Linked DNA regions of Homo sapiens: regions 1, 2 and 3 are each linked to region 4. The links come from fine-mapping of genetic effects on gene expression. A gene starts in region 4. Each other region holds a variant in brackets. All regions are shown on one strand. Distances are from middle to middle. Region 1 has its middle 33 kb from the start of SH3BGRL2. Region 2 overlaps SH3BGRL2 (SH3 domain binding glutamate rich protein like 2). Region 3 has its middle 43 kb from the start of SH3BGRL2. Region 4 holds the start of SH3BGRL2 (SH3 domain binding glutamate rich protein like 2).

What was found. PIP is the estimated chance that this variant, and not a neighbour inherited with it, causes the effect.
Region 1: its variant is fine-mapped to the expression of SH3BGRL2 in whole blood (INTERVAL, PIP 0.98).
Region 2: its variant is fine-mapped to the expression of SH3BGRL2 in amygdala (GTEx, PIP 0.91).
Region 3: its variant is fine-mapped to the expression of SH3BGRL2 in whole blood (INTERVAL, PIP above 0.99).

Annotation. Positions count from the first base shown.
Region 1 is chr6:79,597,062-79,599,750 of GRCh38, forward strand. It overlaps a transcript of SH3BGRL2 not described here. Among named protein-coding and RNA genes, the nearest start is that of SH3BGRL2, 33 kb to the right of the region's middle. The variant A/G (reference allele first, on the strand shown) is at 1,143.
Region 2 is chr6:79,701,755-79,704,443 of GRCh38, forward strand. SH3BGRL2 (SH3 domain binding glutamate rich protein like 2) reads left to right here. Exons shown (of 4, transcript NM_031469.4): 4 at 1-1,901. Among named protein-coding and RNA genes, the nearest start is that of SH3BGRL2, 72 kb to the left of the region's middle. The variant G/A (reference allele first, on the strand shown) is at 1,025.
Region 3 is chr6:79,586,691-79,589,379 of GRCh38, forward strand. It overlaps a transcript of SH3BGRL2 not described here. Among named protein-coding and RNA genes, the nearest start is that of SH3BGRL2, 43 kb to the right of the region's middle. The variant T/TAA (reference allele first, on the strand shown) is at 1,599.
Region 4 is chr6:79,630,024-79,632,712 of GRCh38, forward strand. It overlaps SH3BGRL2 (SH3 domain binding glutamate rich protein like 2), which reads left to right and starts at 1,306. Exons shown (of 4, transcript NM_031469.4): 1 at 1,306-1,483. The coding sequence starts at 1,439.

The sequences.
Region 1 (2,689 bases), 33 kb before region 4:
TTTACCAAAAATACAAAAATTAGCCAAGTGTGGTGGCAGGCACCTGTAATCCCAGCCTCTCAAAAAGCTGAGGCACAAGAATCGCTTGAACCAGGTAGGTGGAGGTTGCAATGAGCCAAGATCGCACCACTGCAATCCAGCCTGGGCACAGAGCAAGACTCTGTCAACAAAAAAAAAGAAGAAAGAAGAAGAAGAGGAAGAGGAAAGAAAGAGAGAGAGAGAAAGAAAGAGAGAAAGAGAGAGAAAAGAAAGAAAGAGAAAAGAAAAGAAAAGAAAAAAGAAAAGAAAGAGGAAGGATGGAAGGAAGGGAGGAAGGGAAGGGAAGGAAGGAGGAAGGAAGGAAGGAAGGAAAAGAAAGACATATAGATCAGTGGGATAGAATTGAGAGTCCAGAAATAAGTCCTCACATTTAGGGTCAATTGATTTTCAACAAGTGTGCTAAGATAATTCAACGAGAAAAAAATAGTCTTTTCAAGAAATGGTGCTGAGACAACTGGAGATCCACATGCAGAAGAATGAAGTTGGACTCATACCTAACACTATATACAAAATTTAAGTCAAAATAAATCTAACCTGAGAGCTGAAATTATAAAATTCTAGAAAGAAAACATAAGCAAAAATCTTCATGACTTTGAACATGGCAATGATTTCTTAGATATGACACCAAAAAGACAAGCACCAGAAGAGAAGAGATAAATTGGACATCCTCGAAATTTAAAACTTTTGTCTTTCAAAGAATACCATCAAGAAAGTGAAAAGACAACCCACCAAATGGCAGAAAATGTTTGTGAATTCTATATCTGATGAGACGTGTATGTAAGACATATTACAAACTCTTACTATTTGACAATAAAGAGACAACCCAATTTAAAAGTGGGCAAAGGATCTGAATGGGCATATTTCCAAAGAAGAAGTACAAATGGCCCATAATCACATGAAAGGATACTCAACATCACTAGCCACAATGGAAATGTAAATCAAAACCAAATTGAGCCATCACTTCACATGGAATTACTATAATCAAAAGACAGATAAATTGGTGAAGATATGGAGAAAGTGAAGCCCTCATACAACACTGGTGGGTATATGAAATGGTGCAGCGACTTTGGAAAATAGTCTAGCAGTTCCTCAAGAGGTTAAAC[A/G]TAGAGTCACGACATGACTCAGCAATTCCACTCCTAAGTGTATAGCCAGAAGGAATAAAAATATATATCCACACAAAAATATGTACATGAACGTTCATGGCAACATTATTCATTATAGCTAAAAGTAGAAACAATCTATGTGTTGTATTTCTTTATAACATTCAAATGATGAATGGATAAATAAAATGAGGCATATCCGTACAATGGAAGATTATTCAGCAGTAAAGAAGAAGGAAGTACTGGTATGCACTAAAACATGAATAAACCTTAAAAACTTTATGGTAAGTTGAAGGAGCCAGTCACAAACAACCACATATTGTATGATTCCAGCTATAGGAAATGTCCACAGTAAGTAATCTATAGAGACATAAAGTCATCAGGGCAGAGGAACTTGAGGGGGACTGAGAAATAACTGCTAATGGGTACAGGGTTGCTCTTGGGGGTGATGAAAATATTCTAAAATTGTTTGTGATGGTTGCACAGCCTGCATAAACTAAAAGCCATTGAACTGTATACTTTAAATGAGTGAATTGTAAGGTAGACGAATTATATCTTAATGAAGTTATAAAAAATAAAAAATAAAAAGTGCTCAACCTCGGCTGGGCGCGGTGGCTCATGCGTGTAATCCCAGCACTTTGGGAGGCCGAGGTGGGCGGATCACCTGAGGTCGGGAGTTCAAGACCAGCCTGACCAACATGGAGAAACCCTGTCTCTACTAAAATACAAAATTAGCCGGGTGTGGTGGCACATGCCTGTAATTGCAGCTACTAGGGAGGCTGAGGCAGGAGAATCGCTTGAACCTGGGAGGCAGAGGTTGCAGTGAGCCAAGATTGCGCCATTGCACTCCAGCCTGGGCAACAAGAGCAAAACTCTGTCTCAAAAAAAAAAAAAAAAGTGCTCAACCTCATTCAATACCAGATGGATGCAAATTAAAAACAATGTTATAGTATTTTACTGTAGGCAGGTGGGAACAATTAAAATTTTGGAAAATACTAAGTGTTAGCATGATCACAGAACAATGAGAACTCTCATCCACTTCTTAGGGAAGTGCAAATTTGGATCGCCACTATGGAAAATACTTTAGCAACAACTTGTATACTCTATGACCCAGCAAATACCCTTTCTTGCACTAAACATGAAGAGACATGTAATAATATTTATAACAGATCTTTTTTTTTTTTTTTTGAAATGGAATCTCACTCTCGTCACCCAGGCTGGAGTGCAATGGTGCAATATCAGCTCACTGCAACCTCCGCCTCCTGGGTCAAGCAATTCTACTGCCTCAGCCTCCCCAGTAGCTGGGATTACAGGTGCCTGCTGCCATGCCCGGCTAATTTTTGCATTTTTAGTAGAGATGTGGTTTCACCATGTTGGCCAGGCTGGTCTCAAACTCCTGGCCTCAGGTGATCCACCCTATACCAGCTCTTTTAATTACAGCAAAACACTGAGTACAACCCAAACGTCTGTCAGCTGTGGAACGGATTCAATTGGCTAGGACGGGGCAGACATCTTATTAATTGTTCCATCAAAACTGCCCACAACAGGGG
Region 2 (2,689 bases), 72 kb after region 4:
CACTTAGCTCAGAGAATATGGGGTCCTTACTTGTATTCTTTTATCAGCTGATTTTGAAACATATAATAATGATTTTCTTGTTCCCTTCTTTAACTAGCTGCCTTTAGATTTTGATAATCACAGTCTTAAAATACTAGGAAAGAAGTGGATGGGAATTGTAGGCATAGATTTCATATCAAGGGCATTTCAAGACAGAATTTTTATTTCCTGTAGTAGGCTTGCTGGAGCAAAGGAAATGTGCTGCTAAAAATCAACTTATGCCATTTTAAAATTAGATAAAATATGGAGTGCCATCCTGCTAGGTGAGTACAGACCAGAAGAAAATTTAGTTGGGAAAATACTTGTTTTTCCAAATTCCGGTGTTTTATTACAATCAAAGAAGAGGAAAGCAAGGTATTTTTTCACCTCAGATTCTAATATATTCTAGATTTGTTTCTGTTTTATAGATTTAATTCAATACCTCCACATAGATGTTTTTATATTACATGAATTTAATAATAAACTAAACTTTTTTTTGTCTCCCGTTATTGAAAAGTACCAAAGCTTCTTTCTGTTGTGTTTGATTTTACTATAGGGGTTTTGCTTTTTCTAGAGATACTTTTCATTTAACAGCTTTTGTTAAGTGTCAGGCTGCACTTTGCTCCATATAATTATTGTTTTCAGATTTCAACTTGTATGTGTTTGTCTCTTAAAGCATTGGTGAAATCACATATTTTATATTCAGCATAAAGGAGAATAAATTCCAGAAAACACATATTCTGAAAATGGAGTGTTTGTTCCCTGCCATTTTTCACACCTCTCTTAATTTTAGTTCTGTTTAGTTGAGAGGCTGTGATTTTACTCTTGCCTGTGAACCTCATGCATGAAAGCAGCACATTAAATTGTAAAAATACAAACAGATCGTGTGATCATTCAAGGAGCCAGACATGAGGTCCTGCACGAGGGTGTTGGGAGGACACCACAGATTCATCTCAGACAGTGATCAGGACTGAGGATGGAGTTAAATCACTCAGCCCCTGGGTGG[G/A]GTGGGGTGGTTCAAATGGATGACTGATCTCCTGAGTACACTGAAGCCACAGGCTGGTGGCCATGTTCTCTGAATTGGGTGCAGAAGACAAGGGCAGAGTGGCTGCGGCCCCTATTACCTTTGTAGCAGCCACATCAGAAAGCAGAAGAAAACAGTATTTCTGAAGGCATTGTTTGAGGTTGATCTCAGCACTGAACGATTTCAAGCCCTACGCACCAGAACAGAAGGAGGGTGGAGGAAGTGATCAGAGGGAACGAGCTGTAGGTTTGCAGAAATGTGTGAAACCAAAATGATCACTGCCTACTTGTGATTCAAATCTTCAGAGTTTTCCTAGTTCTTCTAGAAATACATGTCAGGTTTGTTTGTTCATCCTTTCTGTCAGCATGGATCAAGCCCCTAAAATGTGGTAAGTGTTGTCAGAGCAGGGCAATATCTCTACTCTCAAGTATGAGGGGAATAGAAACAAAGCAGCAGTTTTAGCCAGGGTTCAATGATAGAGTGGAGGTAAATTAAGAGCCTCCAGGCTGTGATTCACCATTTGAGACATTATACATAATTTGTTTTTGTTATAAGCCATTTGAATTTTTAAAAAATTTCATACATGCAATGGAATATAGATATGTATATACACATATAATATATATGCTAAAGTATAAAGAGTAATAATAATGACAATAAACAAACCCCTGTGTGCCTACCACCCACCTTATTGCCTTTCCTTTGAGGTACCGTGTGCGGTTTCCTGAACCTATCTCTATCCCTGTCTGATAGAGGGAACCCCTGTACTGAACTTTGTGTTGACCATAGCCTTCTTGTCTTTCATCACTTTATCTCCATGTATGTATCCTTAAAGAATAATAAATGGAATTAAACTGAATGTATTCTTCTGTCACCTCCTTTTTATGTTCATTGCCATCGGAGTTTTTTCACTGCTAAATATTATTCCATTATGAATATATCACATGTTCTCTTCTCCAGCTGGTGCTTATTGAACTGCATCTTTGTTTGAAATAGAAAAAGGTAATGTTGCTCTGAATATTCTTTTATGTGACTTCTGGTGTACATACTGAAGAATGGATGTATACCTTGAATAGAATTGCTGGTTTATACAATAAAAGCACATCATCAGTTTTAATAGATAAGGCCAAATTGCTTTCCAGAGTACTAATTTATGCTCCCCACCAGTATACTAGAATTTGCAGGACTCTAAATCTTTGCCAATGTTTGAGATTGTCAGAGTTGCATTTTTGCCAAGCTGGGGAGTATAAAATGTTACCTCATTGTGGTTTCATTTTGTAAATTTTTGATTATTAGTAAGTTGAACATGTTTTATTATGGGAATTCTTGTTTCTTTTTCTTGGCAATCCCTCTTCATGTCTTTTGCCTTTCTTCCTATTGAGTTGTGTTTTAATGATTAATTTTTAAAGTTTCTTTATATTTAATATTTAATTGGTCGACATTTATTTAATCATTAAAGTGAAGAGAAACCAGATTTAGAGTAGAAAACTTTTCTGAGGCCATTTCCAGAAATATGCTAAGCATGTGAATCTTTATTCTATTTGGAGAAAATAAAGTTAAATACATATATATATTTTTTTCTTGTGTGCTATTTTTTACCTTGTCAGCATATCAGCCAACAGTTGACTTCGGGAGCTCCTCTGGGCT
Region 3 (2,689 bases), 43 kb before region 4:
CCTTCTGTACTAAGGCCTATCCTCTGGAATCATAGGGTGGCCTGGAAGCCTCAAAAGGAAATTCTCCCTTGTGGTCAGAGGGAGGAACTGCTGTCTTCCATCACCCTTCTTCACACTGCAAATATGACTTGGAATAGAGTCCATGCAAAAATAGTTTTATGCTTCTGAATGGGTGCAGGACAAAAAAGGTGTTGTGTGGGCCAATAGTGTCTATAACTGCAAGTTCTACCAGTTCTCAAACTATAGAATGTTTCAGAAATGCCAGGGAGCGGATTAAAAATGTTACTTTAATCTGACTCAGTTCTGGGGGGTAATCCAAAAAACACGTTTTTATCTAGACCCCCAGGTGGTCCTGACATAGGTGGCTGAATGAACTCCCCCCAGTGTGTTGTCATTGTACTTTCTACCTGTCTTTAACATTTTCCTACATATTCAACTGTATTATGATTAAAGTAATCTCTTCCCAACTTTGAGTTTATCTGGCAGAAAATTATAAAATCAGAACTTTTTTCCTCTATATTTTTCCAAAACTTGGAGAATTTTTAGTATAAAAGGAGTTATTCATTTGAGAATATTTAGAAAAAAAGATAATGCAGAAATAGGAAGTAGGGGTGTCTAGCCACCACAGAGAACCTAAGGATGTGAAGTAACTGTGGACCTTAGAATGACAGTCCTGAAGCTGTTACTCCAGTGGACATTGAGTTCTGGTATCCCCAAGAACCTACGTCCAGAGACTAAAAAGCCTAATCATGAGGCTGCAAGGGTCAGTGAAGACAGAAAGTATAAAATGAGCATGGGACAAGGAAAAATGATATGTTTTTAATGCATATGTTAATTTCAACAAAGTAGAACAATTTACCCTGCCAAAATTTTGGAGGAAGGAAATTCTAGAATTTGCTGATAAATATGTGTTAATAAAAGGGTATTTGTTGTATTATATATTACCATTGTAGGGCAGGAAAGACTTTCTTCTACCCTCTTAAGTTCTATGGCTGGTCTGATAATTAAACTGACAAAAGATAAATTAACAAGAGAAAAGCATACACATTTTACTTGATGTCAATATTTTTATGTATATATAGAGGCCTTTGTATATCAGAAATGAAGACCTAAAGAAGCAGATAGGTCTGAGAGCCTATATGCAATTTTAACAAAGAATGATAAATTTTTGAGTTGCAATAAGACAAAGAAAAAAGAAGTTTGGGTTGAGTGTGGTGGCTCATGCCTGTAATCCCAGCACTTTGGGAGGCTGAGGCGGGCGGATCACCTGAGGTCAGGAGTTTGAGACAAGCCTGGCCAACATGGCGAAACCCCGTCTACTGGCCGGGTGCGGTGGCTCATGGCTGTAATCCCAGCACTTTGGGAGGCTGAGACAGGTGGATCACGAGGTCAGGAGATTGAGACCATTCTGGCTAACATGGTGAAACCCCATCTCTACTAAAAATACAAAAAATTAGCTGGGCATGGTGGCACGTGTCTGTAGTCCCAGCTACTCGGGAGGCTGAGGCAGGAGAATCACTTCAACCCAGGAGGCAGAGGTTGCAGTGAGCCGATTGTGCCACTGCACTCCAGCCTGGGTGACAGAACAAGACTCTGTC[T/TAA]AAAAAAAAAAAAAAAAAACTGGGCTAGAGCAGTAAATCATGGGAAAGCAACTAGGAAATATAGGGGGAAACTAATGGAAGAGAAGGGTTATTTTAGTAAGTTGGTATGGATTCATCTTGCTGTTAACTCCCCATCTCAGGTGATAAAAATGTTCTGCTCTTCCTGGGACAGGAAAGGCACTTTTATTCTGGGAAATGTATGCCCTGCTTTGAAGTAGAAGCGGGAAGGTCAGAGAGCCCTTCCTGCATCTGCTGCTTCTCAATTGCCTTCAGCTCAAAATAACTAATATACCAAAGTGGCATAATTGGAGGTGGCATGTTCTGATCCCCTTAACCATTTATTAATTATTTGAAGTGTATAAAAGTATCAATCATATGTCATTATTTAATGAAGAAAAGAACAAATGCTTTGCTTCCACATAGGTATTATTAACAACAATTAATAAAGTGACTGTATCATAAATAAAGAAAAGATTATGACATTGAACCTGAGCACTTCCCAGGAGTATATCTGGGATAGAACCAGGATCAGAATTTGGCAGCTGAAGCAATTGGGTATTAATTCTTATGTCCAAAGTCATATAGCCATTGTGCCCAGGGCTGATTAGCTGCTCACAGGATTCAGAAATGTTTGAGAATTTAAAAAGAATTATAGTTATCTCTCAGTATCTCTAGGGGGTTGGTTCCAAGACCCCCTGCAGATACCAAAATCCAAGGATATTCAAGTTCCTTATATAAAATGATGTAGCATTTTCATATAACCTATACTTTAAATCATCTCTAGATTACTTAAAATATCTAATACAGTGTAAATGCTATGCAGATAGTTGTTTTACTCTATTGTTTAGGGAATAATGACAAGAAAAAAGGTCTGTACATGTTCAGTACAGGTGAAATTATCCTATATATATATATATATTTTTTTTTTTTGATTCATGGTTGGTTGAACCTGTGGATGTGAAATCTGTGGTTATGAGAGGCCAACTATAATTGATTCCAAAACAGAAAGAGAAACTATAAAAGATAAACTAATGAATGATTATTTAATGGTTACAAAATATAAAATTACACTGATTTTATTAATTTACTAT
Region 4 (2,689 bases):
TTATGGTAGCAAAATTAAAGTACATTTGCCGAGAGATACTAAAGACAGCAAAACTTCTATTTAAAATTTTAAACACGAAGAAGAAATAAAGTCCCATTAGGAGTGTCTCTTCTATTATTGAAGGAAATTTAAAAAGATTCCTACTACAGAAATGGCTTTAAGAAAAGCAATAGGAAAGGTTATAAATTTGAAATATTCATAACTGTTCTAAAAAATACTTCATAATGATTGCTCTTTGTGCAAGAAATGTATCAAAGAGCCAGAGACCTCATCATCTAATTTCTTACTTTTTCTTAATTAACATTGTTCCCAGACCTCTGCTAAACTCCCGTGTTGAAAGGAAAAAAGTAAATACAGTACAGCAGGGAAAACTGGTTCCTTTCGACAAAACTGAGAGAGAGGCTTGAGCTTTTGTCAAACAGAAAGCACTTGATAAAAAACTATTCCTAAACTATTAGCAACTATATAGAAGCTTTTTATTTAACAGCATCCTCCTGGGAAACTGCGCTGGAATGTGCAGCGGTTCTGAAAAAGGCACAGATTTGGCTGAACTGTAAATATTAGGTGCACAGAGGCGAAGCCATTGTGTAGGGAGGGGTGGGGCAGGTAGGGTCCTGATTTCCAATGTTGATAGAAGGATTCCAATTTCGTTTGGTATTTATTTTTTTCTACTACAATTACAGTTTTGCTGAGAAAAATAAAATATTGGTTGTGCTTCCATCTGGGTTTCTAATTTTCAGTGTGTACAGACAAGAGAAGACCTCTCATTTACCCAAAAGAATCACCTTTCTGCAATCTCCAGTGCTACTGGACAAACAAACGAGCCCAACCCCACCGCCCACACCTCCCAAGCACCCGGCTCGCCGATCCCGCCTGCTTCAGGTAGCTGGGGTTTGCCCGGTACGCCAGCGGCCCTGAGACGATGTGTGCCCGCAGCACGATCGTGTCTGTTGGCATTTCTGGGTGTGGATGCTCCAAACCAATAAACCACAATACAGAACCCAAGCTTGGACTTTGAACCGAGCCCTTTTGCCTAGTTTGCTTTTTCCTCATCAAGCCAGGATCCTTGCCAACCCACCTCACAGCTTCTGCCCGGGCTGTGGCTCCCCTCCAGCCACCTGCGCGTGTTCGGGATAGAAGCGCGGTCAGGAGGGGAGCTCAGTCCACCAGCCACTCCAGGGAGAGACGGAAACTACAAATCCCATCAAGCCCCGCAGCCGGCTCCCTCCTCCTCCCTCTCCTTCCCCTTCAGCCTGCGGCCGGGCGGCGCTGGGCTTTTATCTGCGGACCCGCCGGGAGGGAGCCAGATCCCAGCGATCTTCCCCGACGGCAGCGCTTTACCCAGAGGCTGCCGGCGGCTCGTAGCTGGGTTCAGCTCTGCGTCCACGCCAGCCCGGAGCCCGGGGGGCAAGGGGTCTGTCCCGGGCGCAGCGAGAGGATGGTCATCCGCGTGTTCATCGCCTCTTCCTCGGGCTTCGTGGCGGTGAGCGCGGTGGGGGCGGGCAGTAGGTTGGGGTCGCGGGGCGCGGGTCCTGCGGGAGGCGCGCGGCGCTCGTCACTGCGCGTCCTTGCGCTCAGCCGGTCCGCCCGCGGGAGCCCGCGCCCGGCAGGTGATCCATCACACTCCGACAACAATGAAGAGGGCGGGGAGGAAAGGTGGGTGGGGGACCCCGGCCTCACCCAAATGCCCACCCTGCGTGGCCTGAAAGGCAGACAACGCGGCCTGAAAATGGAGTCCGAGGGAAGCCCCCAGCTCCTGTTGTGTGGCATGGAAATTTGGGGAACGGGTTGTTCAAGAGCTTCGGGGATCCCCCTTCCCCTAGTTTAGTTCTTCCCGATTTGGGACCTTCAGACTGGTTATGTTTTGCACGGGAGCCTTTTCTGCTGCTTTGGTTTGTTACCCTAGCTCCTGAATGAAGCAAGTTTAAGTGGGAATTGCTCTCTGTCCTCCCTTCCCCGCCAGCAAGTGCATTTGTTTAGTTTTATACCTGCGCAAAGAGAATAGTAAAACTAGGTTTGTCCTGTTGTGGTAGGATTGTTTGCTTTCACTGTCATTTTTTTTCTTAGGGTGCCATAAATATTTTTACATCTTTATGTAAATGTGTGTGTATGCACGCATTTTCTTTCCACCTGTAATGCTGTGGAAATTTTATCCTGGGGATCTATGAATTGTGGTTTTCTATTTAATTATTTTTAGCTATTCTCTTTGGTGGATGTTCTTGAATTTTTTTAGAGAAAAAAAATTTTTTTAAAGAAAGGAAAGTTAAATAGCTAGAGATGTCAGAATTTAAGGAAAATTCAGTAGTTAGTATATTTGACAGCCCACTAAGGGACATAGCACATGTGTTTTACATGATTATTGAGACTTGGTTTCCTTAACCAAGAGTTCAGCTATAGATTTAAGAGCCTCCTTTGTGACATATATAATCAAGTAACATCAAAAAGTGCATTGTAGATTGCTTAAATTTGGTCTGGTCAATTGTCTGCCCAGTAGCTCAGTCAGATTGTTCCAAAATTTGTTTCTTAAGTGGGTGGAGTGGAGGATGGAATAAAATATTGTTTGAAAATCCTTGTACACCACTGAAGTTTTTTATTTAAAAAGAAACCAACACGATCATACAAAGCCCCTCCACCCCCATTTGCACTAGAAACAATAGATGGGAAAATCCAACTTACACTTATGTGCAGT